Homo sapiens: one gene and its partners. The protein of the gene in region 1 interacts with the protein of each later gene in a pairwise test. Each region holds a gene or a part of one and is shown on either strand. Other genes may lie near its edges.

The links.
Region 2: the proteins of SLC22A1 (region 1) and TMBIM4 interact in a protein complementation assay, tested with the Homo sapiens proteins (one large-scale study listed by BioGRID).
Region 3: the proteins of SLC22A1 (region 1) and CHST12 interact in a protein complementation assay, tested with the Homo sapiens proteins (one large-scale study listed by BioGRID).
Region 4: the proteins of SLC22A1 (region 1) and LAPTM4A interact in a protein complementation assay, tested with the Homo sapiens proteins (one large-scale study listed by BioGRID).
Region 5: the proteins of SLC22A1 (region 1) and CYSTM1 interact in a protein complementation assay, tested with the Homo sapiens proteins (one large-scale study listed by BioGRID).
Region 6: the proteins of SLC22A1 (region 1) and CLPTM1 interact in a protein complementation assay, tested with the Homo sapiens proteins (one large-scale study listed by BioGRID).
Region 7: the proteins of SLC22A1 (region 1) and SMIM24 interact in a protein complementation assay, tested with the Homo sapiens proteins (one large-scale study listed by BioGRID).

What each region holds. Positions count from the first base shown.
Region 1 is NC_000006.12:160,142,315-160,145,814, forward strand, and holds part of SLC22A1 (solute carrier family 22 member 1), read left to right. Parts: intron 1-1,226; coding exon 1,227-1,335; intron 1,336-3,500. UniProt on the Homo sapiens protein: Electrogenic voltage-dependent transporter that mediates the transport of a variety of organic cations such as endogenous bioactive amines, cationic drugs and xenobiotics. Functions as a pH- and Na(+)-independent, bidirectional transporter.
Region 2 is NC_000012.12:66,163,497-66,166,996, forward strand, and holds part of TMBIM4 (protein lifeguard 4), read right to left. Parts: intron 1-3,500.
Region 3 is NC_000007.14:2,445,111-2,448,610, reverse strand, and holds the end of CHST12 (carbohydrate sulfotransferase 12), read right to left. Parts: 3' UTR 127-3,500; downstream 1-126. UniProt on the Homo sapiens protein: Catalyzes the transfer of sulfate to position 4 of the N-acetylgalactosamine (GalNAc) residue of chondroitin and desulfated dermatan sulfate.
Region 4 is NC_000002.12:20,038,129-20,041,628, reverse strand, and holds part of LAPTM4A (lysosomal-associated transmembrane protein 4A), read left to right. Parts: intron 1-617; coding exon 618-738; intron 739-3,500. UniProt on the Homo sapiens protein: May function in the transport of nucleosides and/or nucleoside derivatives between the cytosol and the lumen of an intracellular membrane-bound compartment.
Region 5 is NC_000005.10:140,173,796-140,177,987, forward strand, and holds the start of CYSTM1 (cysteine-rich and transmembrane domain-containing protein 1), read left to right. Parts: upstream 1-1,392; 5' UTR 1,393-1,490; intron 1,491-4,192.
Region 6 is NC_000019.10:44,975,880-44,979,379, reverse strand, and holds part of CLPTM1 (putative lipid scramblase CLPTM1), read right to left. Parts: intron 2,038-3,500; coding exon 1,920-2,037; intron 1-1,919. UniProt on the Homo sapiens protein: Involved in GABAergic but not glutamatergic transmission. Binds and traps GABAA receptors in the endoplasmic reticulum (ER).
Region 7 is NC_000019.10:3,477,726-3,481,979, reverse strand, and holds the start of SMIM24 (small integral membrane protein 24 precursor), read left to right. Parts: upstream 1-1,454; 5' UTR 1,455-1,516; coding exon 1,517-1,583; intron 1,584-3,050; coding exon 3,051-3,162; intron 3,163-3,501; coding exon 3,502-3,561; intron 3,562-4,254.

The DNA of each region.
Region 1 (3,500 bases):
AAGAGTGGTAGGAAACCACTGGTGGCTTTGAGCAGGGGTGGACTTGACCCAACTCCAGTCTGAACTGGGTCCCTCTGGCTGCTGTGATGAGCGGCCCTGGGGGTGCAGAGTGGAGGCATGTTCAGTTCTCTGAGGCCAGGGATGCTGTTTACCTCTGGTCAAGCATCACCAGGCTAAAGACCTGTGAATGAGGACCTCCCTCGAGGCATTGGAGTGAACTCCTTGCCTTTTATCTTTTAGAAGCTAGATGAGGTGTGGTCCTTAACAGAAGGCTCAGCTTGGCTTCTCTATCAGGGCTGAGAGCTCCAGGAGGCAGAGAGACTGTGTTGCACCCATGAGACGGGTGAGGGGCACTCTCATTTGGACCCTCACACTGGCTGAGTGAGATGATACAAGATTTCCATAAATAGCCAGTATCTGGGGACAAGGGTCAAGCTGACATCGTGTCTGTGACCCCAGAGGCCTTTATAGTGAGCTGGTGTGTCACAGGGTTACTTGCATTTCAGTGCTGGGGGTAACCCATGCAGAGCAGATGATGGTGGTTATTAAGGATCTGAGCTTCTTTCCAATGAAGCCAAATTCTTTGATCATTCTCAATAGGGAGAGGGCTTTCTGGGCCTTCAGGTGGTCGAGAACCCCACAGCAGCCTGCCAGCGTGAAACAAGGGCTCGCTTCCCTCATTCTCAGCCTCTGAGACTATTATGAAAGGTGTTTTGGTTAAAACTGTATTGGAAACAAATATTAAATTGAGGATTAGAAATCTGTTTTGTTAGTTTGAGAACTACTACTAGAGGGATTATGTTTATTGAGTGCTTTCTGTGTTTCAGGCACTGAACTAGAATGGATACTATCATATAATAAATAAAAAGCCAACTTTAAAATTCTGTGGTCACAGTGGACATTTGACATACATCAGCTCTAAGTCTCATGATGATCTATAAGCTGGGTGTCATTATTCCCATTTTACAGCCCAGGAAACCAAGCTGAGATTCAAAAAGCCCATTCTTTCCCCTGTTCAATGGAGTCTTCTTGAATATGTCATCGTCAACTCCCCAAATCTCTTGAGACTCAGTTTACTTATCTAAAAATGAAAAAGTTAGATAAGACAAACTTCCAGGCCCCACCAGCTCTAATAGTCCAAGCATGACCCACCATGGCCTCTCACAGTAACTCAGGGAACGAAGCCCCCATCCACCACCCACACCCTCTTTGTACTTCCTTTCCAGACCTGCACTGGTTAAACATCATAATCATGTGTGTTGGCCGAATGGGAATCACCATTGCAATACAAATGATCTGCCTGGTGAATGCTGAGCTGTACCCCACATTCGTCAGGTGAGTGCATGGAACAGGGGTAGCCAGTGAAATGGCTGTGAACCCACCAGCTCAGTGGGAACCAACATCTCCAAGGTGCTTCCTAAAGATGCAGCCAAGCATTGCTCAGTTTGGACATTGAGTGGCATTGTTAAGAAATCACGTTCAGAGAGATGGGGTTAAGCATCAAGAGAGGGTCAACCCATAATTATAGCAGAGAATGTGAAAGGGGACCCTGTGAGCTGATGGATGGGGTCAAAGTTGTTCTGTACATACAACAAGTACAAGAACAAAAGGTGTAGAGAAGTGGGTACTGGACAGGGACTTGGGAAACCTGTGTTGTAGCCCTGTCCTTGGCACTAATTGATTGTATAAACATCAGCCATTTCATTGACACTTCTGGGCATCATTTTCTTAAACAGCTGACATTTGTATAGTGATACGCGAGTATTTCCATACATGTGATTCCCTTAAATTTGTTCTTGGGTATGATCATCCCCATATTACATATGAGGAAGCTGTGATTTAGAAAGGGAAAGAAGCGTTGTAGGGGTCAGACAGCTAGAAAGAAGCAGGGCTGGGGCAAGGACCACATCTTCCTGACCTGGAACCCTGTGGTTTTTCCATTATGGCACATTACTGTTCTGTAAACTGAGGAACTTTTCAAAATTGTGGTAAAATATACATAATATGAAATTTACTATCTTAGCCACTTTTAAGTGTACAGTTGAGTAGTGTTAAGTACCTTCACACAACCAAGCTCCAGAACTCTTCATCTTGCAAAACGGAAACTCTGTACTCATTAAACAGTAACTCCCCATACTCTCCACCCTCCAGCTCCTGACAACCGCCTGTCTACTTTCTGTTTCTATGAGTTTGGTTACTTTAGGTACCTCATATAAGTGGAATCATATAGTATTTGTCTTTGTATGACTGGCTTAGATCACTTAGTGTGATGGCCTCAAGGTTCATGTATGTTGTAGCATGTGCCAAAATTGTCTTCTTTTTAAAGGCTGAGTAATATTCCATTGTACATATATACCACATTTTGTTTATCCATTCATCTGTCAATGGACACTTGGGATGCTCCACTTCTTGGCTATTGTGAATAATACTGCTATGGACATGAATGTACAAATATCTCTTCAAGATATCTTTCAATTCTTTGGGGTGGAATATCCAAAAGTGGAATTACTGGATCATAATCTAATTCTATTATTAGTTTTTTGAAGGAACGGCTGTATTTTTTTTCCATAACGGCTACACTATTTTACATTCCCACCAACAGTTCACAAAGGTTCCAATTCCTCCACATCCTTGCCAACACTTGTTAATTTCTGTTGGTCTTTTTGATAGTAGCCATCCTAATGGGTTTGAAGTGTTATCTCATTGTGGTTTTGATTTCTCTGATGATTAATTATGTTGATCATCTTTTCATGTGCTTGTTGGCTATTTGTGTATTTTCTTTGGAGAAATGTCTACTCAAGTCCTTTCCCCATTTTTGAACTGGTTTTGTTGTTCTTGAGTTGTAGCAATGGTTTATATAATCTGGAGATTAACTCTTTATCAGGTACAAAATCTGCAAATATTTCAGCCCATTCCATAGGTTACCTTTTCATTCTGTTGATTGTGACCTTTGATGCACAGAAGTTTTTGATTGTGATGTAGTCTAATTTATCTCTTTTTACTTTTGTTGCCTTTTCTTTTGGTGCTGAAGAACTTTTTTTTTTTTAATCAAGTTTATTGAGGTACAATTGACAGAGTAAAATTCACTGCTTCTAACATGCAGTTAGATTAGTTTGACGACACACACACACACATACACTCACACACACGTATATATAGTCATTTAGCCACTGCCATGATGAAAATAGAGAATATTTCCATCACCCCCAAAAGGTTCTTCATGTCTCTTTGCAGTTAATACCCTTTTCTTCTCACCTCCAGACCATGCAGTTTTAGCTTTTCCAGAATGAGCTGTAAATGTAATAATAGGGCACGTCACCTTTTGTGTTTGGCTTCCTTCACTTAGCATGATGAAACTCACCCACTTGTTGGATGTATCAGTGTTTTGCTTGTTGTTGCTGTATAGTACTCCAGCATGTGAATGTCAGTGTGCCACAATTCATACACTGTTTAGCTATTCACCACTTGAGGGACATTTGAACGGCTTCCTTCAGAGGGAT
Region 2 (3,500 bases), on another chromosome or scaffold:
TCATGATGGCAGAAAGGGGAAATGCCAAGCAAAAGGGGGAAAGGGCCCTTATAAAACCATCAGATCTTGTGAGAACTTACTATCACAAGAACAGCATGAAGGTAACTGCCCCTGTGATTAAATTACCTCCCACCTGGTCCCTCCCACAACACGTGGGGATGATGGGAATGACAACTCAAGGTGAGATTTGGATACGGACACAGAGCCAAATCCTATCAGACAGAATCTGAGAATGTCTTATTGGTTTAAGAGACATATACTTTAGAAAGCTGAGCTTCAACACAAATCCTCAAACTCTTCCAAAAAACTGAAGAGGAGGGAACCCTTCAAACTCATTTTATGGAGCCTGCATTACCCTGATACCAAAGCCAAAGACACTACAAGAAAACTGCAGAGCAATGTCCCTGATGAGTACTGATGTGAAAATCCTCGACAAAATACTAGCAAACAGAATTCAACAGCACATTAAAAGGATTATAGATCACCACCAACCAGTATTCCTGGACTGTGAGGATGGTTCAATACATGAAAATTAATCAATGTAATCAGCACATTTACAGAATGTTGGGGGAAAAAGAAACATGATCATCTCAACTGATGCAGAAAAAGCTTTTGACAAAATTCCACAACCTTCATGATAAAAACACTCAATAAAGTAGGAATTGAAAGAAACTACCTCAACATATTAAAGGCCATTTTTCCACGGTAGTAGTTCTATGCAAACCGACCCCCAAATTCCAAGAAAGCTGAGAGGCTGGCAAATCCATTTTCTTAGAAAAAAACATTTAATAGGGACATAAGAACAGAAGCCATCTCTGTGTCTCTGTCTCAGGCAGAGAAAAGATAGTGGATCTACGGGCCATAAATCCCCTGACCTAGGGCTTATATACCAGAGGGAAAGGGTGATTCAGAAGGGATTGTAGGACAACTGAAGGAAGACAACATCAAGGTTGTTTTGACCTAAGGACAGGATTTATGGTAAGTACATGCTCTTATACAAGGAACCACAGATAAATTGGAAATCTTAGAGGGTTTCCTGGAACTGGGGTTAGTCAGAAGTCAACAAGGCAGATTAGCAACCAAGATGGAATTACTTTGGCCTCCACAGCCATATATGAAAAGCCCAGCACTAATGTCTTACTCAGTGGTGAAAAGCTGAAAACTTTTCATCTAAGATCAGGAATAAGACAAGGACGTTTGCTTTTGCCATTTCTATTCAACATAGTACAGGAAGTCCTCGCCAGAACAATTGGGCAAGAAAAAGAAATAAAAGGCATCCATATTGGAAAGAAAGGAGTAAAATTATCTCTGTTCACAAACATGACCTTACATGTAGAAAACCCTAAAGATTCCATAAACTGTTAGAATAAATGAATTCAGCAAAGATTCAAGATACAAAATTAAAATGCAAAATTAGTTACATTTTTATACACTAACAATGAGAAGGTTGGAAAGAAAGTTAAGAAAACAATTCCATTTACAACAGCATCAAAAGGAATAAAATGCTTAGGAATAAACCTAACCAAGAAGACAAATTTGAAAACTACAAAACACTGATGAAAGAAATTAAAGACAAAAATAAATGGAAACACATCCATCATTATACATTGGAAAACCGATGTTCATACTACCCAAAGTAACCTACTTTGGGTAGATTTAATGCAATCCCTATCAAAATCCCAATGGCATCTTTCACAGAAATAGAAAATCCATTCTAAAATGTATATGGAATGTCAGGGGACCCCAAATTGCCAAAACAATATCTAAAAAAAACAACAAAGTTGGAGATCTCACATTCCTGATTTCAAAACTTATTACAAAGCCACAGTAATCAAAACAGTGTGGTACTAACATAAAGACAGAGACATACAGACCAATGGAATACAACAGAGCTCCAATAATAAATCCTGGTATATATGATCCTTTTTTTTTTTTTTTTCAGACACGGTCTCCCTCTGTTGCCTAGGCTGGAGTGCAGTGGCACAATCACAGCTTGCTGCAGCCTCGACCTCCCAGGCTCAAGTGATTCTCCCACCTTGGCCTCCAAAAGTGTTAGGATTACAGGCGTGAACCACTGCACCCAACCTTGTGAATCTTCTTTAGTGGGGTATGTGTTCAAGTCTTTTGCTGTATTTTATTCAGGCTATTTGTCTTCTTATCGTTTAGAGTTCTTTTGTATATTTTGGATAACAGTCCTTTATTAGATATATCTTTTGCAAATATTTTCTCCCAGTATGTAGTCTATCTTATTTTCTTGACTTCTTCACTTTAAAATCAGGTTGTTTTTTGTTATTGAATGGTAGGATTTCCTTATGTATTCTGGATATTAGCCTCTTACAGGATATATCATTTGCAAATATTTTCACCCATTTTATGGGCCTTTTCACTCTGTTGAATGTGTTCTTTGATACACAGAAGTTTTAAATTTTGATGTCATCCATCTATTTTTACTTCTGTTGCCTGTTTTTGGTGTCACGCCCAAGAAATCCATTGCCAAATCCAATGTCCTCCTATGTTTTTATCTAAGAGTTTTATAGTTTTAGGTCTTACATTTAGGACTTCGATCTTTTTTGAGGTAATTTTTGTATACAGTTTAAGGTAAGCATCTAATTTCATTCTTTTGAATGTGGATATTCAATTTTCCCAACACCATTTGTTGAAGAGACTGCCCTTTTCTCATTTGATTGGCTGGGCACAGTGGCTTATGCCTGTAATCCCGGCACTTTCGGAGGCCAAGGTGGGTGGATCACTTGAGCCCACGAGTTTGAGACCAGCCTGACTAACATGACGAAACCTGTCTCTTCTAAAAATATAAAAAATTAGCTAGGCATGGTGGCATGTGCCTGTAGTTCCAGCTACTCAGGAGGCCGAGATGGGAGGATCACTTGAGCCTGGGACATTGAGGCTGCAGTGAGTTGTGACTGTACCACTGCACTCCAGTCTGAGAGACAGAGTGATACTTTGTCTCAAAAAAAAAAAAAAAAAAAAGAAAAAGAAAAAGAAAAAGGAAGAAGAAACACAAATGGCAAATAAGTATATGAAAAGATGCTCAACATTATAAGTCATTAGAGAATTACAAGTTAAAGCAACAAGGAGATGCCACTACACACCTATTAAATGGTCAAAATCTAAAACACTGATATCATCAAATGCTGACGAGTATGTGGAACCAACAAGAACTCTCATTCATTGCTGGTGGAAGTGCAAAATAGTACAGCCACTTTGTAAGACAGCTTGGTGATGTCTTATGAAACTAAACATTCTCTTACTATACAACACGGCAATTGTGCTGCTTGGTATTTACCCAAATGAGTTGAAAACTTATGTCCACACAAAAACCTGCACATGGATGTTTACAAAGCAGCTTTATTGACAAAACTTGGAAGCAGGCAAGATTTCCTTCAGTAGGTGAATGAATAAACTGTAATGCATCCAAACAATGGAATAGTATTCAGCACTAAAGAAAAATGAGCTATCAAGCCATGCAAAGACATGTAGAA
Region 3 (3,500 bases), on another chromosome or scaffold:
AAGTGGGGGAAGAAGCTGAGGGTGGGTGGCCGGTGTCCCCTAAAGCCGCGGGGACAGAAGGCGGGCTGCTCTGCCCCCAGGTCTTATCGGCTTTCATAGGAGGAATGGGTTTTGTTCAGTCCCGGGTAGAGAAGACATTGCCATTTACTGAGATCCAGCTGCATATGACACAGAAGAGGACGTGGTGCTCTGTGAGGTCCTGAGCTTCGAGGTTTGGACAAGGACTGGTGGGTGCCATTAACAGGGGGCAGATTCGGACGGGTATAAGAATGAAGTTGGTTATCCAGCCTGGCAGGGGCTATGGGAGAGGGAGCCCGCCATTCAAGGGGTGCAAGGGGAGGCAGAGACAACCTGCCGGGAAGGCACCTGGCGAGAGCAGGGTCTCCCCAACTCCACACTTCCTGGTCCAGTTCCTTTATTGTTCAAATTTAAAATATGTTTGTGGCCAGGCACGGCGGCTCATGCCTGTAATCCTAGCATTTTGGAAGGCCGAGGAGGGCGGATCACTTGAGACCAGGAGTTCGAGACCAGCCCGACCCACATGGCGAAATCCTGTCTCTACTAAAAAGAGAAAAATTAGCCGGGCATGGTGGTGTGTGCCTATAGTCCCAGCTACTTGGGGAAGAAGCGCTTGAACCCAGGAGGTGGACGGTGCAGGGAGCTGAGAGCTGAGGTCGCACCACTGCACTCCTGCCTGGGCGACAGAGTGAGGCTCTGCCTCAACAACAACAAAAAAAGTGTTTATTCAGGCTGCTCTCCCTATGGAATAGCCATTCTTTATTTCTTAACTTTGTTAATAAACTTGTTTTCACTTGTTTAAAAAAAAAAAAGTGTTTGTGGCCGGGCGCAGTGGCTCATGCTTGTAATCCCAGCACTTTGGGAGGCCGAGGCGGGCGAATCACTTGAGGTCAGAAGTTCGAGACCAGCCTGGCCAACATGGTGAAACCTCATCTCTACTAAAAATACAAAAATTAGCTGGGCTTGGTGGCACATGCCTGTAATCCCAGCTACTCGGGAAGCTGAGGCATGAAAATCGCTTGAACCTGGGAGGTGGAGGTTGCAGTGAGCTAAGATTGTGCCACTGCACTCCAGCCTGGGCGACAGAGCAAGACTCTGTCTCAACAACAACAACAAAAAAGTGTTCATTTCAGAAGAGGGTGTCAGAGTGTGGGGACCACAGCAAGAAGTACCTTTGAGGGGGTATGGGAAATGACCTCTGACCCCCACGCTGACCCGAAATCCTCCATGAGGAAGACCACGAAGGCAAGCACAGAGGGTCACTGAGGGGGTCACCGAACAGAAGGTTTGCTGATGTAAGAGGAGGAGGCTTTGGAGGAAGCCAGTGGCCGGGATGGTGGGAGCCCACACTCAATTCCCTGAGAAAGTGCAGCACCAGCCTCAGTGGTCGCTGCTGTATGGGGTCTTCCTGCTTCCACCAGCTACCCCATGACCTTCAGGCTCTCTGCAGCCCAGGCCTGCCAGTGTGCCTCAGTGTGCCTTTCGTGCTGCTGGTCCCTGGGGGCCACTCTCCTCTGCTCTGCAGCTGGGCCCTGCACCCTCAGCACATCAGGGCTGGATCGCTGGGACCCAGGGGCTCCCCATGGGCCAGAAGCCTCCAGGACCCCAGAAAAAGTCTGTGTTTCTGGATCCTCTTGGCAGAATGACTCGAGGCTCTGTCTTACTGGACCCAGTGGCTGGGCAGTGTTTCAGGCCAGGCTGCGTGGGACGGATCCACCTGGAGGGGTTGCTGGAGCCAGAGAATCAGCGGTGGGCACTGGGACCGCTCCAATCTCCCACAGGGACGGCAGGATGTGAGGCCCGGGGCTGCAGCACTCACCACCCCACGGGGTTGATCTTGTACCAGAACTTTTTCTGTTCGATCATGTCCTTGCACTCTGTCCCTTGGTGGGGGGATTCCTGGGTTAAAATGTTAGAAATGACATCTCCAAGGTGCTCGGGACAACAGACAAAGCCCCACAGGTCCCAGCTGGAGCAGGGAGGTCCCTGGACATCTCATTCTCATGGCAGGTAAGGAACGGGAAGCCCCGACGTGGGCACAGCCAGGGGTCCCTGGACATAGCCGCAGCGCTGAGCCCTGAGGGACAGGTCGTGGCTCCGTCATCCACAGACATAGTTCAGGCACCGCCTTGTTGGCTGCCTGGGGTGGAACCACTTCCTGGGGCTGCAGTGGGTTAATGCCAGGCCACGCGCTGGGCTGGAGAGGTTTTTCCTCAGAGCCTGGGTTTTTCCTCTCTCCTCCCCTCTGCCAATCTGGCCAGCACTCCGAGAGTCGCACGAGGCTCCCGTCCCCCAGACTGCGGCTGGCGCTCAGCTATTTGTCCTTTTTTCCCAACTCTCCGCTTTTCCTTGTCAACGGCCTGAGGTCCAAGGCAGCCCCAAGGCCCAGCATGTGCTCTCCCTTCCAGCCCTGCTGCTGGCTCTTCTAGAGGCTGGGCTGGGACCCTGGAGACCTGGGGCTGGCTCGGACCCACCTGGGCTGTGCAGAGACGGATGGGGGCAAGGCCAGGGACAGATGCCACAACGGCCGGCAATGGTCCCACGAAGTGCCCTTGAGAGGTCTGGGCAAAGCCAGGGCTGGGTTCTCACTGATCCTGTGCCTCAGTGGGTCACCGCAGCCTGGGTCTCCCTTTCCCCATCTGGAAATGAGACTGACATCATGACAATTCCTTCTGGCTCAGCCCATGACTTCAAAGAGCCGTCCATTAAACCCTGGCGTGCCCATCAACAGGCCTTTTCTCACACGCGCTGTCCTTCCCTACAAAGTCCTGTTTCCAGCCCCAGGCCACTTTCTCCTTAAAGGGTGACACCTGTGGGCGGGCACCCAGGGAGCTTGGCATGCAGGCTGAGGCAGGGATGAAACGGGCCTGGTGTGGTGGCTCACACTTATAATCCTAGCACTTTGGAGGCCAACGTGGGCAGATCACGAGGTCAGGAGTTCGAGACCGGCCTGGCCAACATGGGAAAACCCCATCTCTACTAAAAATACAAAAAATTAGCTGGATGTGGTGGCACACACCTGTAATCCCAGCTACTCAGGAGGCTGAAGCATGAGAACCACTTGAACCCGGGAGGCATAGGTTGCAGTGAGCCTGGGCGACACAGTGAGATTCCGTCTCAAAAAGGAAAAAGAAAGAGGCCCGTAGGAACGGAGAAACTGAAGGAACCGTGGCCCTCTCACCAAGAGACAAGCACCCTTTTCTCGAATGCCCTGGGGGGCGGGGTCGGCTGGAGGAGAAATATCCCACAGGAGCTTTTTTCTGAAGATGCAAAACATCCACCCAGAGCCAGAGCCAGGCCTGAGACAGGGCGTGCCAAGTCCTCCACAACATCCCAGGACAAGGGTGGCCCTGCCCACCCTACGTCCACTCACCAGGACGCCCTGCCTGGCCCCCTTCCCAAAGCACCACTGGGAGGCTCTGGACTCCGGGAGAAGCTTCTGGAATGTCTGAGAACCAAACCAGTTTTCAATCAAACCTTTT
Region 4 (3,500 bases), on another chromosome or scaffold:
AGGAAGGGGAGGCTTCAGTGAGCTGAGATTGCACCACTGCACTCCACCCTGGGCAATAGAGTGAGACTCCATATCACACACACGCACACATACACATACACACACACACACAAAAGTAAGACTAGTAGATAAGTGACTTTCAGTATCTTGGTAAGTCTCTTAAGCATTTGAGTCTAGCTCTAGAGGAAATAGTGAGTTCTCTGTCACCTGATGAGAGATGCTGTGGAGGGGTTTCGGGCATCTGATGAATAAATATAACAGATGAACAGTAACTTCTTCAAATCCAGAAATTCTGAGATTGGTATATGAATAAATAGGTAGCTTCGAACATGAACCATTTGTAATGATTCTTTAGTTTTAATTTTTTTCTGGTGTATTGGTTAAGCATCTTATCTCTCAAATGGTTAATATTACTTATACTTTATAAAATATTTATTTTTAAATTATTCTCATAGTGGTAATTGCGTATTGTTTTATCTCACAGGTAGTCTCCCACTATTTTATATCTTTGTTACTTCAAGTAAGACAATCTTAAATATGAGAGGACATCTAGAGATTGTGCTAAGATTGCGTCGTGATGGTAATTAATGTAACTGATAGAATGTTATCTTTTCCAGGTAGTAAACCTATTGATGGCAATTTTGCTGACTGTGGAAGTGACTCATCCAAACTCCATGCCAGCTGTCAACATTCAGTATGAAGTCATCGGTAATTACTATTCGTCTGAGAGAATGGCTGGTATGTGTTTAATAGAAAAACAAAAAAATCTCCCCTGCTAATTTTTATATACAGTCCTGTGTTGTTTAATGATGGGGACACATTCTGAGAAATGTCACTGGGTGATATTGTTGTGTGAACATCATAGGGTGTACTTACACAAACCTAGATAGCGTAGCCTACTATACACCTAGGCGATGTGGTAGAGACTCCTAGGCTAAAACCTGTACAGCAGGTTACTGTACCGAATACTGTAGGCAGTTATCATACAGTGGCAAATAGGTGTGTATCTAAAGATGGAAAAATATAGTAATACTGTAAATACACTATTACAGTGTTATGGAACCCTCATGATATATGCAGTCCATTGTTGACCAAAATGTTGTTGGCCCATGTCTGTCTGTCTCCACACACACTGGTTATTTAGGGGATTGATTAGATTATGCTTAAGTTACATTTCAGAAAGTTAAAATGGTTACATAATAAGGGTAACAAGTTAAATTATATTTAAGTCATTCTTGCTGAGGCAGGAAAGTATTTTGATGGGTTTTTCAGAGAGATTCAGTGAGGATTACAATAGAGCATTTCTAGCCAGAAAATGTAATGGACTATTAAGTTTTTGAGAAATGTGTAAAATGTACCTTGAAATCAAAATAAGCATGCAGGCTTCATAAGACTTTTTTTTTAATGTAGCTACTAGTAGAAAGGAGAAGTTGCTATGGTTACAATATATGTGTCCCTCCAAAATTCACATGCTGGAGCTTAACCTCCAAGGTGATGATATTAAGAGGTAGGACCCTTGGGTGGTGATTAGGCCATGAGGGCTCTACCCTTATGAATGGGATAAATGCCTTTCTTTTTTTTTGAGACAGAGTTTTGCGCTTGTTGCCCAGGCTGGAGTGCAGTGGTGCGATCTCGGCTCAGGGCAACCTCTGCCTCCTGGGTTCAAGCGATTCTCCTGCCTCAGCCTCCTGAGTAGCTGGGATTACAGGCACACACCACCACACCCGGCTAATTTTTTGTATTTTTAGAGTTACTCCATGTTGGTCAGGTTGGTCTCGAACTCCCGACCTTAGGTGATCCACCCGCCTCAGCCTCCCAAAGTGCTGGGATTACAGGCGTGCCACAGCGCCCAGCCAGCGCCCTTCATTTTTAAAATCACATTTATATTATTTATTTGTTTAAAAAAAGTTTTTTAGAGAAAAGGTCTTACTTTGTTGTCCCAACTGGAGTGCAGTGGTACAGTAATAGCTCACTGTAACCCAGAATTCCTGAGCTCAAGTGATCCTCCCACCTCAGCTGCCTGAGTAGCTAAATTTTTGTGGAGATCGGGTCTCCCTGTCTTTACCAGGCTGGTCTTGAGCTCCCGGCTTCAAGGGACCCTCCCACTTCAGCCTCCCAAAGTGCTGAGATTACAGGCATGAGCCACTGTGCCCAGCCCATAGCAGACTCTTGAAAGCCGATTATTTGAATTACAAATTTTGCTTTCAAGTTTGATAATACCTGTTTAATTTCATATTTTGTTTTTACCTGAATTCTTCTAAGTGGAAGTTTGCATGTTGTAGCAGGGAAGTCCTTTAAATTCTTAACATTTATCAATCCTGTATCCTCTAAGAAAAAAGTAAAGAGGACTATTCCTAGTTTAGTGCCAAATATTGATGAGGTTTTACTGCCCAGTGATAAATTATATATACATGCTGTGCATGGTGGCTCATGCCTGTAATCCCATCACTTTGGGAGGCCGAGGCAGGTGAATCACTTGAGGTCAGGAGTTTGAGACTAGCCTGGCTAACATGGTGAAATCCTGTCTCTATTAAAAATACAAAAATTAGCTGGGCTTGGTGGCGCAGGCCTGCAATCCTAGCTACTCTGGAGGCTGAGGCAAAAGAATCTCATGAACCTGGGAGGCAGAGGTTGCAGTGAGCTGAGATTGTGCCACTGCACTCCAGCCTGGGTGACAGTGAGATTGTCTCAAAGAAAAAAAAAAAGTTGTATATACATTTACCCAATAGGGAATATTCAGCAGTTGTTCTAGTCATTCATCATTATTAGTGCCCTCAGTATTTTTTTTCTTTTTTCATTTTTAAAACATCTTTTGTGCATACAGGGTCTTGCTATATTGCCCAGGTTGGTCTTGAACTCCTGGCCTCAAGTAATTTTCCCACCTTAGTCTCTCAGAGTACTGAGATTACAGGTGTGGGTTGCCGTGCCCATCCCCCCCAGTTTCTTAATCTCTGCCCAGACGGATCACCTGATGTTGGGAGTTTAGACCAGCCTGGCCAACATGGTGAAACCTCGTCTCTACTAGAAATACAGAAATTAGCTGGATGTGGTGGTGCTTGCCTATAATTCCAGCTACTTGGGAGGCTGAGGCAAGAGAATCACATGAACCTGGGAGGTTGAGGTTGCAGTGAGCCGAGATCGCGCCACTGCACTCTAGCCTGGGCGACAGAGCAAGACTCTGTCTCAGGAAAAGAAAGAAAAAACTGTCCAGAGTCACAGAATCAACTACAGATTTGTGCTAAGAAATTCAGTAAGTCAGGCACGGTTTAGAATTGCTTGAGATTACTTGGCTGTTTTGTGAAAAAATTAGTGAACATGGATTAATGGAGAGTTGGAACAACCTGAGGAAGAGTTGAGAAACGAAGAAGAAAGTAGTGTGTGTTAACATAGATACCAGGGTGCAGGAAGCAATGAATTTTGGTGTTTGGGAGGTTGGGTGGGGAAGTGAGGTTAATGGCGAAATTTGAATTTCAGGTTATATTTATCTAGAGCAAAGGGTA
Region 5 (4,192 bases), on another chromosome or scaffold:
TGCTCCTTGGGACCTGGGCTCACATTTTCAATCTCTTCTCTCCTATTAGTACAGCTCTGTCTAGAGCCATGGTTCTTCTCTACCTTTCACAGCTGTCTTCTTTCCCACTTATATGAGTTTCTTTAAGTGTGAAAATTAAAAAGTGCCACTTAAATACAATGATTAAGTCATAATAAACAGTACAAGTTGTACTTATGTGAGACATACCACCCATACACGTTTGATCTTCGAGAACCACATCTCAATCTGCCCATGGCCCATTGCCTGACACTAAAAGATGCTCACAAGAAGTTGACTATAAACTAACTTCTTGGTCTAAGATCCTAAACTCTTGAGAGGGAAGGTTTCAATACATATGAAACCTTCTTGGCAGTGCAGGGATGAGGAGAGTAAAACTGAAATGAAAGTCAGCAAATAGTGAAGGTGTGAAATAGGCAGTGACTCTCACACTGAGACCTCCAGGGGATGTTAAATTTTCATTTCGAAGCTGATAGTCTTATCTGGGAAGCCTAGAGAGTAACAAAAGTTGTAGGCATATACTTATATTAGAGTGGTGCAAAAGTAATTGCTGTTTTTGCCATTTAAAAAAAAAATGCAAAAACCACAATTACTTTTGCACCAACCTAATAGCAAGCAAGGGGAGGAATATGGAGAGAAAATCAATTTCTAAAATGAAAAATAAAAAATTTTTTGCAAGTAGGACTTGCAAGCTCATTCTAGGCCTTGCTCTGGGAGCTTTTCGGTAACTTCTCTTCCTGTTGGAACAGAAGAAGGAAACCTTCAGGACAGAAGATTCTGTCCCCCTTCCCCCTCCTGATGTGAATGAAGTCTCATTACACTCTAAAGTACTGGCGGGACTACTTGTTGCAAGGTTTATGGGGAAAAGTAGCCAGAGAGCAATCCAGTTATCAGCCTCAGCCCCATTCCGCTCAGGTACAGCTCGGGAAGTAAGCCCCCAACCCTAGTTGGGTCTGGACCAACAAGACACGAGGAGGCAGCAGCCCACAGCCGACCCCTCATGCCACGCACTGAGCAGGGTTCCGCATGGACGCTGGTCTTGCCTCCCAGGCGCCTGAACTAGCGGAGTTGGGGTATCGGGTGGAGTCTCGGAGAACCAATCCAATCTGAGGGGGACGCCTGTGGGAGTCCTAAGTATCCAGCGCAGCTGGGAGGCCCACGTTGGGAAGTCGGAGACCGACCCCGCCTCCCGACTGCGCCGACTGCAAGAGAGCGCTTCCGGCGGCGCTTGGAGGCCGAGCAGTTGGGGGCGGGGCTCGTGCTGTGACGCAAGCCTCGCCTCGCCCCGCGCCGCGCGCGTTGCCAGGGTGATCAGGTGACTCCCGGTTCGCGGCGCTGGGAGCGGCCGTGACGTCAGGCGCCCGGCTGCTCCTCACTTGCTCTGAGACAGGTGCGGCAAGTCTACTGCGGGCTGGTCCGGGCTCCTCAGGTTCAGACCCGACCGTTATCCAGTCGGTTCGTGGAGAGGAGAGGTGAGGTGCAGCGGACCTGGCCCGACCCAGCTGGGACCAGGGCGGGGATCAGGCACGGACAGGGCGCGTCCCCGGGCTCCCTGGGGAGCGCCCTGAGAACTGGGGGGCACCCGGGCTGGCCTGGCTCAGGCAGGGGTTCGCGCAGCCCCTGGGGAGGGGCAGGGAGGCAGGGAAGCTGCTGCCGCCAGCTGGATCCCTCCCGGCGCCCCGCGGCTACTCTGGGGCTCCTGGTCGCCGCGCCGCGCGTCTCGGCGGTGGACTCACAGGGTCTCCGCGTCGCTGCGGTTCTCGTCTCACGAGGAGTCGGCGGGCTCGGAGCGGGGCTCGCCACACCCCGTCCCGGGGGACGTCCGCGGGAGGCTTCTGGATTTCTTCGCCTTGGGCTGCGATTTCTGAGGCGCTGCTCTGCCTATTCCGAGCTGGGCCAGCCGGGGGCAGGGGGCAGGTCGCGAGTCCCGCGGGTGGGAGCGGAGCGGAAGTAACTAGTGACTGGAAGTAACTAGGGAACGCAAAGCCGGCGCTCGGAGGCCGGGGTGTTCAGAGAAGGCGTTGCGGGGGAAAGGAATCCCGGCTGCTGTTGAGAGCCGTGGATTGGGATCTGAGCGGACCTGTTGGAGGAAGTGAAATCTGAGCGGGGTCCTGACGGGTGGGAACTAATCTCCCGGTAGCAGTGGAGGTTGCAGGGGGGAGAGAAGGAGGGGAGGACCCCTGGGGAAGGAGACCATGAGGAAAAACGATTTGGGGACTGACTGGACCGTCTGCTGGGCTGTTTTGGGGGAAAAAAAGTTTGGAGAATTAGGTTAGGGAGGATTAGGAAAGGACCCTTGAGTGCCCACCTGAGAGGCACTGTGTGCTGTGGGGAGCCATTGAAACGTTGGCTAGATTGGGGTAGGGGGAACACTGAGGAAGTTGGTGTGAGGGGAACACTGAGGAAGTTGGTGTGACATTCCGGCAAAAAGGTGACAACACTCTTCTCTGATGGGATTCCTCAAACCCTGCTTATGAAATACTTGTAACCGACAAGGGTAGGGGCTCAGGCAGCCAGGTGCCTTTTTCAGCCATTGTTGGCAAATTTTTAGAAATTAAACAAAAAATAATTGTACATATTTATAGATTTATACAATATGATACATGTAAACTTTGTGGAGTAACCATGTTAGCAGATTTTTAAAAATTCCTTTTTATGAAAGGACCCACCCAAGGGCAGCTCATTTTCGAGTATCTCATTTGACGGGATTTAATGACTGGTTGGGAGCTATGCCCCCCTCAGTATGCAGGGAGATTATAGCGTCCACAACACTTTGCCCTTCAGAGGTTTCAGAGTGACTTACAAACACCTTGTATCCCTAGGGTGAAACCCAAACCCCAAATGACTGGTAAGAGATTTAATAGGGGGAAGTTATTAAAGGAGAACCAGCATCCAAACATTCATGTGGGGCATTGGATTCGCTGAAAGGAGTCCCATACTATTTGTTGATTGTAGATCAAAGATCTCTAGACCTGGCCTGGTGCGGTGGCTCACACCTGTAATCCCAGCACTTTGGGAGGCCGAGGCGGACGGATCACGAGGTCAGGAGATCGAGACCATCCTGACTAACACGGTGAAACCCCGTCTCTACTAAAAATATAAAAAATAAGCCGGGCGTGGTGGCGGGCGCCTGTAATCCCAGCTACACGGGAGGCTGAGGCAGGAGAATGGCGTGAACCCGGGAGGTGGAGCTTGCAGTGAGCCGAGGCTGCGCCACTGCACTCCAGCCTGGGCGACAGAGCGAGACTCTGTCTCAAAAAAAAAAAAAAAAAAATCTCTAGTCCTTTCCTGCCAGCTTTGAGTTTCTCCGTGTAAGGCTGCGTAAGTGTTAGTTGGCTATTTTGTCTTAATTTCCTGAGCAACAGGAAAAATATATTTTGGTTATATGAAGAGGAATGCTTTGGTAATTTATGATTTTTCCCAGCCCTGAAATTTATTGGTGCTAGGACCAAAAATACACAGCTGTCTATTTTATTTTATTTATTTGTTTATTTTTGAGGCGGAGTCTTGCTCTGTCGCCCAGGCTGGAGTGCAGTGTCGAGATCTTGGCTCATTGCAACCTTTGCCTCCTGGGTTCAAGAGCTGTCTATTTTATATTGAAACTTACCAAAGTCTGTTTTCTGGGAGGTAGTGAAATTATTTTGTATTTCTTTGACTCCAGAAAACAGAATTGGACCTCCAGGGATCCTGTACAGTGAAAGGCAGGTTTGGGAATTGCGAAGGAAGGTGGCCGCAGCTGGTTTGTGCGTAAATATAGAAACCGGTGCAGCACTCAAAGGAGTGCAAATCCAGGGTGAGACCTGGGGAAACGGGACTTCCAGTCAGATCAGTGAAGTCATTCTCTGTAAAAGAAGCCCCGAAGTGTGTAAAAGGCCAGAGTAGTTTTTTCCCCGTGTGTTCCTGTTGAGTGGTAGAGATTATGATAGTGATTTTTAAGGGGCTTTGCAGGAGCTTGTTAATATTAAGAATCGCTGGAAATCAGATGTCTTGGCCTCATTAAAAAATTTAGAAAAGTAACTGTTTTCCAAATCTCTTTGATACTATTTGAAGTGGCCAACTAATTATGGTTCCTTTGGAAAGAAACAGTCCACCCCCTCCTTTCCCAAACAAAATAACTATGTGCTGTCAGGGCAGTTAAGTAGGCCAAAAGTTTTTGGAAATTTTCTGCTTTCAT
Region 6 (3,500 bases), on another chromosome or scaffold:
CCATTCTCCAGCTCCGCTCAAACAGGTACAGCAAGAGATTTCTACGGCTGCCCATCAGGAGACAGAGGACTCAGGGAAAAAGCTCACAGAGAACCAAGCAAGGCTGGGTGTGGCAGCTCACACCTGTAATCCCAGCACTTTGGGAGGCCGAGGCAGACGATCACTTGAGGTCAGGAGTTTGAGACCAGCCTGGCCAACATGGCGAAACCCCGTCTCTACTAAAAATACAAAAACTAGCCGGGCGTAGTGGCGTGTGCCTGTAGTCCCAGCTATTTTGGAGGCTAAGGTGGGAGAATCGCTTGAACTTGGGAGGTGGAAATTGTGGTGAGCTGAGATAGTCCACTGCACTCCAGCCTGGGCGACATAGTGAGACCCTGTCTCAAAAAAAAAAAAAAAAAGAGCCAGGCAAGCAGAAAGATGACAACAATTATTAACTTCTCGAAAACAAGAGGACGGACAATGCTATGGTTTGAATGTTTGTCCTGGCCAAAACTCATGCTGATTCTCCCACCTCAGCCTCCCAAGTAGCTGGGACTACTGATGTACTCTAGTACTCCCCACTCCCAGTGAAACTTAATCCCCAATGTGCCAGTACTGAGAGATGAGGCTTTTAAGAGGTGACTGGGTCATGAGGACCCTCCCCTCAGGAACTGATTAACCCATTCATGGATTAGTGGTTTAATGGATTAATGAGTTATCATGGGAGTAGAAGTGGTAGTCTTATTTTTTATTACTATTGTTTTTTCAGAGACGTGGACTTGCTCTGTCGCCCAGGCTGGAAAGCTGTAGTGCAATCACAGCTCACTGCATCCTTGACCTCCCAGGTTCAAGCGATCCTCCCACCTCAGCCTCCCATGTAGCTGGAACCACAGGTGCTCACCACCATACCTGGCTATTAATTTTTGTAGCAACGAAGTCTCATTATGTTGCCCACACTGTTCTTTGAATTTTATCTATTTTTTTTTTTTTTGAGACGGAGACGGAGTCTTGCTGTGTCACCAGGCTGGAGTGCAATGGCGTGATCTCAGCTCAATGCAACCTCCGCCTCCTGGATTCAAGCGATTCTCCTGCCTCAGCCTCCCAAGTAGCTGGGACTACAGGAGCATGCTACTACACCCAGCTAATTTTTGTATTTTTAGTAGAGACGGGGTTTCACCGTGTTGGCCAGGATGGTCTCTATCTCTTGACCTTGTGATTCACCCGCCTCGGCCTCCCAAAGTCCTGGGATTACAGGCGTGAGCCACTGTGCCCGGCCTCTATCTATCTTTTTGAGACAGGTTCTCGGTCTGTCACCCAGGCTGGAGTGCAGTGGTGTGATTCTGGCTCACTGCAACCTCCACCTCCTGGGCTCAAGCGATCCTCCCACCTCAGCCTCCTGAGCAGCTGGGACTACAGGCACACGCCCAGCTAGTTTTTGTGTCTTTTTTGGTAGAGACAGGGTTTTGTCATGTTTCCCAGGCTGGTCTCAAACTCCTGGGCTCAAGCAATCTGCCCACCTTGTCTCCCAAAGTGCTAGGATTACAGGCATGAACCACTGCACCCAGCCCACAAATTATTTTTGAGTGTCTACTTCTATCAGGCCCCTACTGTGCAAAAGTCAACCCTGGCCCTTCCCCCTTGGTGAAGGACGTCTCCTCCTCTCCAAGAGTCCCTGTCTCCAGCTGCTTTTTCTGGCCAATTTCTCTCTGGTCCCTGAGCCTCCGTGGGTCTCCCTTCCTCCGTGGGTATCCCTGCTTAGTGTCCACAGGGCTCTTTCAGGCTGGGTGGGGCTTGAGCCTGCCCTGCCAATCCCACCCTCTTTGAGCACAGGCTTCCTGCCTGCCCTCCTGGACTTGGGATTTGTCCGCCACATTAGCCTGGGGGCTCCCAGGATGCTGGCCTCCTGGACAGTGGGTCCTGGCTGCAGGGGAGCGACTTACTCCGGGACATGTGGACTGTGGCAAGCCGGCGGTACAGGGCCTTCTGCCGGGGGTCTGGGTGGAAGCCACTCTTGGTGAAGTAAACGTGGATGTAGATGGAGCCGTTCTGCTGGACGCTCTGCAAAAGACGGAAGGTCAGGTGGGCAGGCTGGGCAACTGGGGTGAGGGAAACGTTAAAGCCCTGCCTGGCACCCATCTGCAGCAGTTTCCTCCCCCTCAACTCTCTGGCCATTTACTGAGTACTCAGGGTGGGGCATGTAGCTGGGTGGCAGAGAGGTAAATGCTGGAGTCAGACAGACTCAGACGCCCGCTCTACCTGCCATGGCCGTGTGAGCTCAGCTTCTCTCTGAGCCTCAGGGCCCCACCTAGAGGATGCGAAGTTCCCACAGCACTGACCCGAGGGCACCACTGCAGGGACTACCTGGAGCACTGGCACACAGCTCAGTCAACGAGCTCTCGTTAAGCTCACTCAACAGGAAGAAGCAGCTGACCGACATGGAGCTCCTACTATGGGCCAGACCCTGCCCTGGGCACTTCAGACAACAGCTTCCTAATCTAACGAGTTAACACACATATAACATGTCAACCTTATGCAATGGGTCATGTTACCACCCCATTTTGCAGATGAGGCAAACGGGGCTCATGCCAAGGGGTCACATAGTGTGTGGCAAGTACGCAGATGGAAACCCAGTCTGTGGGCTCCTGGGTGCTACTCCCTGCTACCTCCAGCTGGCCCCTCTCTGCCCAAGTCTTCCTCATTATCTCATCAAGTCTCCTTGCCTCCCAGGGAAGGGGGACTATTCTCACTTGATCCAGATGAGGAAACTGAGGCTTCAAGAAGGGAGGCAAGTTGTCCAGGGGCACTGGGTGGAGACAAAGGCGAGCACTGAACCTCTCTGATCCTTGTGCAGAGCTCGAATTCAGTTGGCCACATTGTGTTCTCCTCACTCTCCCTATCTTTTTTAGAGATGGGGTCTTCCTGTGTTGCCCAGGCTGGAGTGCACTGGCTATTTGCAGTTGCGATCATGGCACACTACAGTCTTAAACTCCTGGGCTCTGGCCATTCTCCCACCTCAGCCTCCTGAGTAGCTGTGCCTACAGGCACATGCCACTGTGCCCAGCTCTCCTGCCTTTTAAGTCCACTTGGACCCCACCCTGAAGCTTCGACTTAGATCCAAGCCCTTGGAAGCAGATCCCCCTGCTGGGCCTGCCAGGCCCTGGTCCTTCCTTGGATCTCGTGGCAAGGCCTGGGGGCTGGGCTTGAGGTCTCTGTGGGAGTCACCTCTCAGTGCAGGTCAGAAAGTCCAGCCAGGTGGGGTGGTTCATGCCTGTAATTCCAGCACTTTGAGAGGCTGAGGTGAGAGGATCGCTTGAGCAGAGGAGTTTGAGACCAGCCTGGGAAACATGTTGAGACCCCATCTCTACAAAAAATTAGCTGGGCATGGTGGTGCATGCCTGTTGTCCCAGCTACTTGGGAGGCTGAGGTGAAAAGATTGCTTGAGCCCAGGAGGTTGAGGCTGCAGTGAGCTGTAATTGCACCACTGCACTTCAGCCTAGGCAACAGAGCAAGACCCCATCTCA
Region 7 (4,254 bases), on another chromosome or scaffold:
AACACCTGTGCGATGACGCCGGGCCTTCCTACCACTCGTCTGGGCCATGGCTGCTCCCGTGTCAGCTGGGGCGGGGTCCCCCTTCGCCCGGGCAGGGCCCACTATCTAATCAGCCGAGGGACCAAGGTTGAGGACAGGAGAGCCTGGAGCCTGAGTCATCAACGCTCCCGGGCATCCCCACGTGAGAGCGTCCCGGTTTGCAGGTGGACCACGGGCATGTGGCCTCTGCACACCTTCCCTGTCCCTGTGTGCTCCCATGGCTGCTTGTGGGTCCTCAGGGGCCAAGAGCCTGGGCGAGGCAGGATAAGCTGGGGGCGAGGCAGACCCGGCTTCAAATCCCAGGTCAGACCTGCTGCGTGACCTTGACTTTCCTGGGCACAATGAGACCGGCACCATTTCACGGGGTGTTAAGAAAAGGAAATGCGATCTGTGAAATTGCCGAGCACGGAGCCTCATGTGTACTCTGAGAGCACAAAAGGTGACTCTCAAATTTGCTTTGAGAGACAAGGTCTTGTTCTGTTGCCCAGGCTGGAGTGCGGTGGTGCATGCAGTGGTGCAGTCGTAGCTCGCTGCAGCCTCGAACTCCTGGGCTCAAGCGATCCTCTCACCTCAGTCTCTTTGAGTAGCTGAGACTACAGGTGCAGGCCACCATGCTCAGCTAAGTTTTACATTTTTTATTTTAGAGACGGGAGGAGGTTGGTCTGGAACTCCTGGCCTCAAGCGATTCTCCCGCCTTAGCCTCCCAGAGTGCTGGGATTACAGGCGTGAGACACTGTACCCAGCCTTGGTAACTCTTTGTATTTCTAATTTTTTTTATTTCCTTTGAGACAGGGTCTTCCTCTGTCACCCAGGCTGGAGTGCGGTGGTGCGGCCATAACTGGCTGCAGCCTCAAACTCCTGGGCTCAAGTGATCCTCCCACTTCAGCACACCCTAGTAGCTGGGCCTGCAGGTGCCCGCCGCGCCTGGCTAATTTTTCTATTTTTGTAGAGGTAGGGCTTGACTAAGTTGCCCAGGTTAGGCTCAAGGATCTGCCCGCGTTGGCCTCTCAATGTAGTGGGATTACAGGTGTGAGGCACTGGGTGGGCGCACCCTTCTTAAGATATTCCAGTTGTATTTGTGAGTTCCCCCTGTGTCCAGAGTGGCACGGGGCCTGGGCCGGGACGGGAGGTCGCAGCCATCTCAGCTCAGCCCCTGCAGCAGGGATCACAAAGGGGTGGCCCTGAGGCTGATGGTCCCCAGGGCAGGGTGCAGGGAGGAGGGACTCCCTCAGTTAATTGTTACACAGGTCCAGAGTCTGGCCTCCCGGAGGGAGAGCGATGGGGCAGGAGCTGGCAGGGGAGGGGCAGGATGCCCAATCAGGTGGTGCCAGGGGCGGGCCCCGCTCCCAGGTCTCAGGCATCCCCCGCCCGGGGACCGCCTGTGCCTTATCACGGGGAGGCAGGGCCTCGCCCACACCAAACCTGTGGACGCCGACCCGGGACCGCCGCTGGCTGGCTGCTGGCTCACTCGACCGTCATGGAGACCCTGGGGGCCCTTCTGGTGCTGGAGTTTCTGCTCCTCTCCCCGGTGGAGGCCCAGCAGGGTAGGTGCAGGGGGGCGGGAGGGGGCGTCGCGGGATAGGGGAGTTGGTCAGGTGATCACCATCTCCCAATTTTCCATGGCGAGAAAAAGGAGAGGGGGCAGGAAGAAAAGGAAGAGTGGCTTGGAGGCCCTTCTCAACCCCCGCAGTACCGCCCGGCCTCCCTCTCGCTGGGCTCTGCCCTCCTCTGTAAGGGACCCCCCACCGCCCACCCGAGCCTTTCCCCTCTCCAGCCCTTCTGAGCACACCTGGCTGAACCCCCCGCCTTGAGCTCGGCCCCACTCTGAGCTCGGGCCTCCTTTACAAGCCCCTCCCCATCTGAGTCCCCGCCTCTTTTGTGAACCGCTCCTTCTCACTCCTCCTCCTTTATAAACCCCTCCCCGAGCCCCTCCTCCTCTGTAAGCCCCTCCCCTCTGGGCTCCTCCTTCTTTATAAGCCCCTCCCCCTGAGCCTCTGCCTCCTCTATAAGCCCCTCTCCCTCTGAGCCCCCTAGTTCACAAGCCTCTCCCCATCCGAGCCCCTTCCTCCTTTGTAAGCACCTCCTTCTCACTCTCCCTCCTTTATAAACCCCTCCCCGAGTCCCTCCTCCTCTGTAAGCCCCTCCCCTCTGAGCTCCTCCTTCTTTATAAGCCCCTCCCCCTGAGCCTCTGCCTCCTCTACAAGCCCCTCCCACTCTGAGCCCCCTAGTTCACAAGCCCCTCCCCATCTGAGCCTCTTCCTCCTCTGTAAGCCCCTCCTTCTCACTCATCCTTTATAGACCCCTCCCTGAGCCCCTCGTCTGTTGTAAGCCCCTCCCCTCTGAGCTCCTCCTTCTTTATAAGCCCCTCCTCCTGAGCCTCTGCCGCCTTTATAAGCCCCTCCCACTCTGAGACCCTCTCCCCTTATAAGCACCTCCCCTCTGAGCTCCTCCTTTATAAGCCCCTCCCTCTAAGCCTCTGCCTCCTTTTATAAGCTCCCCCCAACAGCTCCTCTGTTGTAAGCCCCAACCCCCCAGACTCTTCTTTATAAGCCCTCCCCATCTGAGCCACCTCCTCCTTCATAAGCCCCTCCCCTGAGCTTGTTCTCCTTTATAAACCCCACCCCTGAGCCACTCCTTTGTCATAAGCCCCGCCCTTCTGAGGTCCGCCTTTATAAGCCCCTCCCCCTGAGCCTCTGCCTGCATTATAAGCCCCGCCCCTTCTGAGCCCTCCTGATTTGTAAACTCCGTCCCCTCTAAGCCCCCCTTCTTTTATAAGCCCCTCCCCTCTCTGGGCCCCCAGGCTCCCTCCCACTCTGGTAAGGTACCCTCCCCCTCTCTAAACCCTCCCGACCCCCCTACGCCATCCAGGTCTCTGAAGCTCCGTCCCTTTCCAATACCCCCTCTGTCGGAGCACCCCCAGTGACCTTCTCTCTCTCCTTGCTAGGGTGGTGGGGGAAGGGGGTCTTCTGACCTTTTCTTCCTCTGAGTCGAACCTCCCCAACTTCCTGCAGCCACGGAGCATCGCCTGAAGCCGTGGCTGGTGGGCCTGGCTGCGGTAGTCGGCTTCCTGTTCATCGTCTATTTGGTCTTGCTGGCCAACCGCCTCTGGTGTTCCAAGGCCAGGTGGGTGCCCGCCCCCACCCCGCTGCCCCCACAGCCCTGCCCCCACCCCCAGCTTCCCAACCCTCTCTGGTACCCCCATCACCAGCCTCAAAGTCCGAAGGTCTCCCATTTCCCTGCTGCTCCTCCAACCTCTACTCTCAGAGCCCAGATCCCGGGCTTGCACCCGCCCGTCTCCCCAAGACAACGAGCCAGGCAGCCCAGCCCTTCCTTGCGTCCTGGGGTTCATGAGCCCCGGCTGGGAGGTTGGGACAGAGGCTGAGGCTGTCACACCGCTTCCTTCCCTTTACCGCCCCCTTTCTCCTCTCCCGCCCCCTTCCACCTTTCCCTTTATCTCTGCAGGGCTGAGGACGAGGAGGAGACCACGTTCAGAATGGAGTCCAACCTATACCAGGACCAGAGGTACTATGCGTGCGGATGCTGGGGGTCTGTGTGAACCCCTCCTCGGGGTGGGGGAATGGGTGTGCGCAGATGACCTTGCTGTCCTGAATCCTTCAAACACATTCCTGCCCTGGGATCTTCACCTTTCCTGTATCTTCTGGCAGCTCCTTCTCCTCCTCCAGTCCCTAGTCAGGGGTTTCCAGCCTGGCCACCAGCCTTCCTGACACTGTCCCCAGCCCCAAGTCTGATTCATGCTTATCACCAGTGGAGCTGTCTTAGTTGTTCACTAATTTTGAGACATTACGTGGTGCCTTCCAGTTGTGTAGGCAACTTAGCTTTTGTCCTGGCTGTGTCCTCATACCCAGCATTGGGCCTGGAACACAGGAGGTGCTTAATAAATACCTGTTGAAGAAGACTGTGGTGTAGGATTGTGTAGGTGTCTGTACAAGGCCTAGGTATGGGCGACCCACCTGGACTCAGTGCCTCCTATGGCTCTGACTGCCTCCCAACCTGAGGATTCCCACAGAGGACTCAGGGATGCAGACCTCCATCTTCCATCCACCCATCACCCACTCATCCACCCACTCACCCATTCATCCACTCACCCATTCACCCACTCACCCACCATCCATCCATCCATCATCCACTCATCCACCCACTCACCCATTCACCCACTCACCCATCCACCCACTCACCCATTCACCCACTCACCCA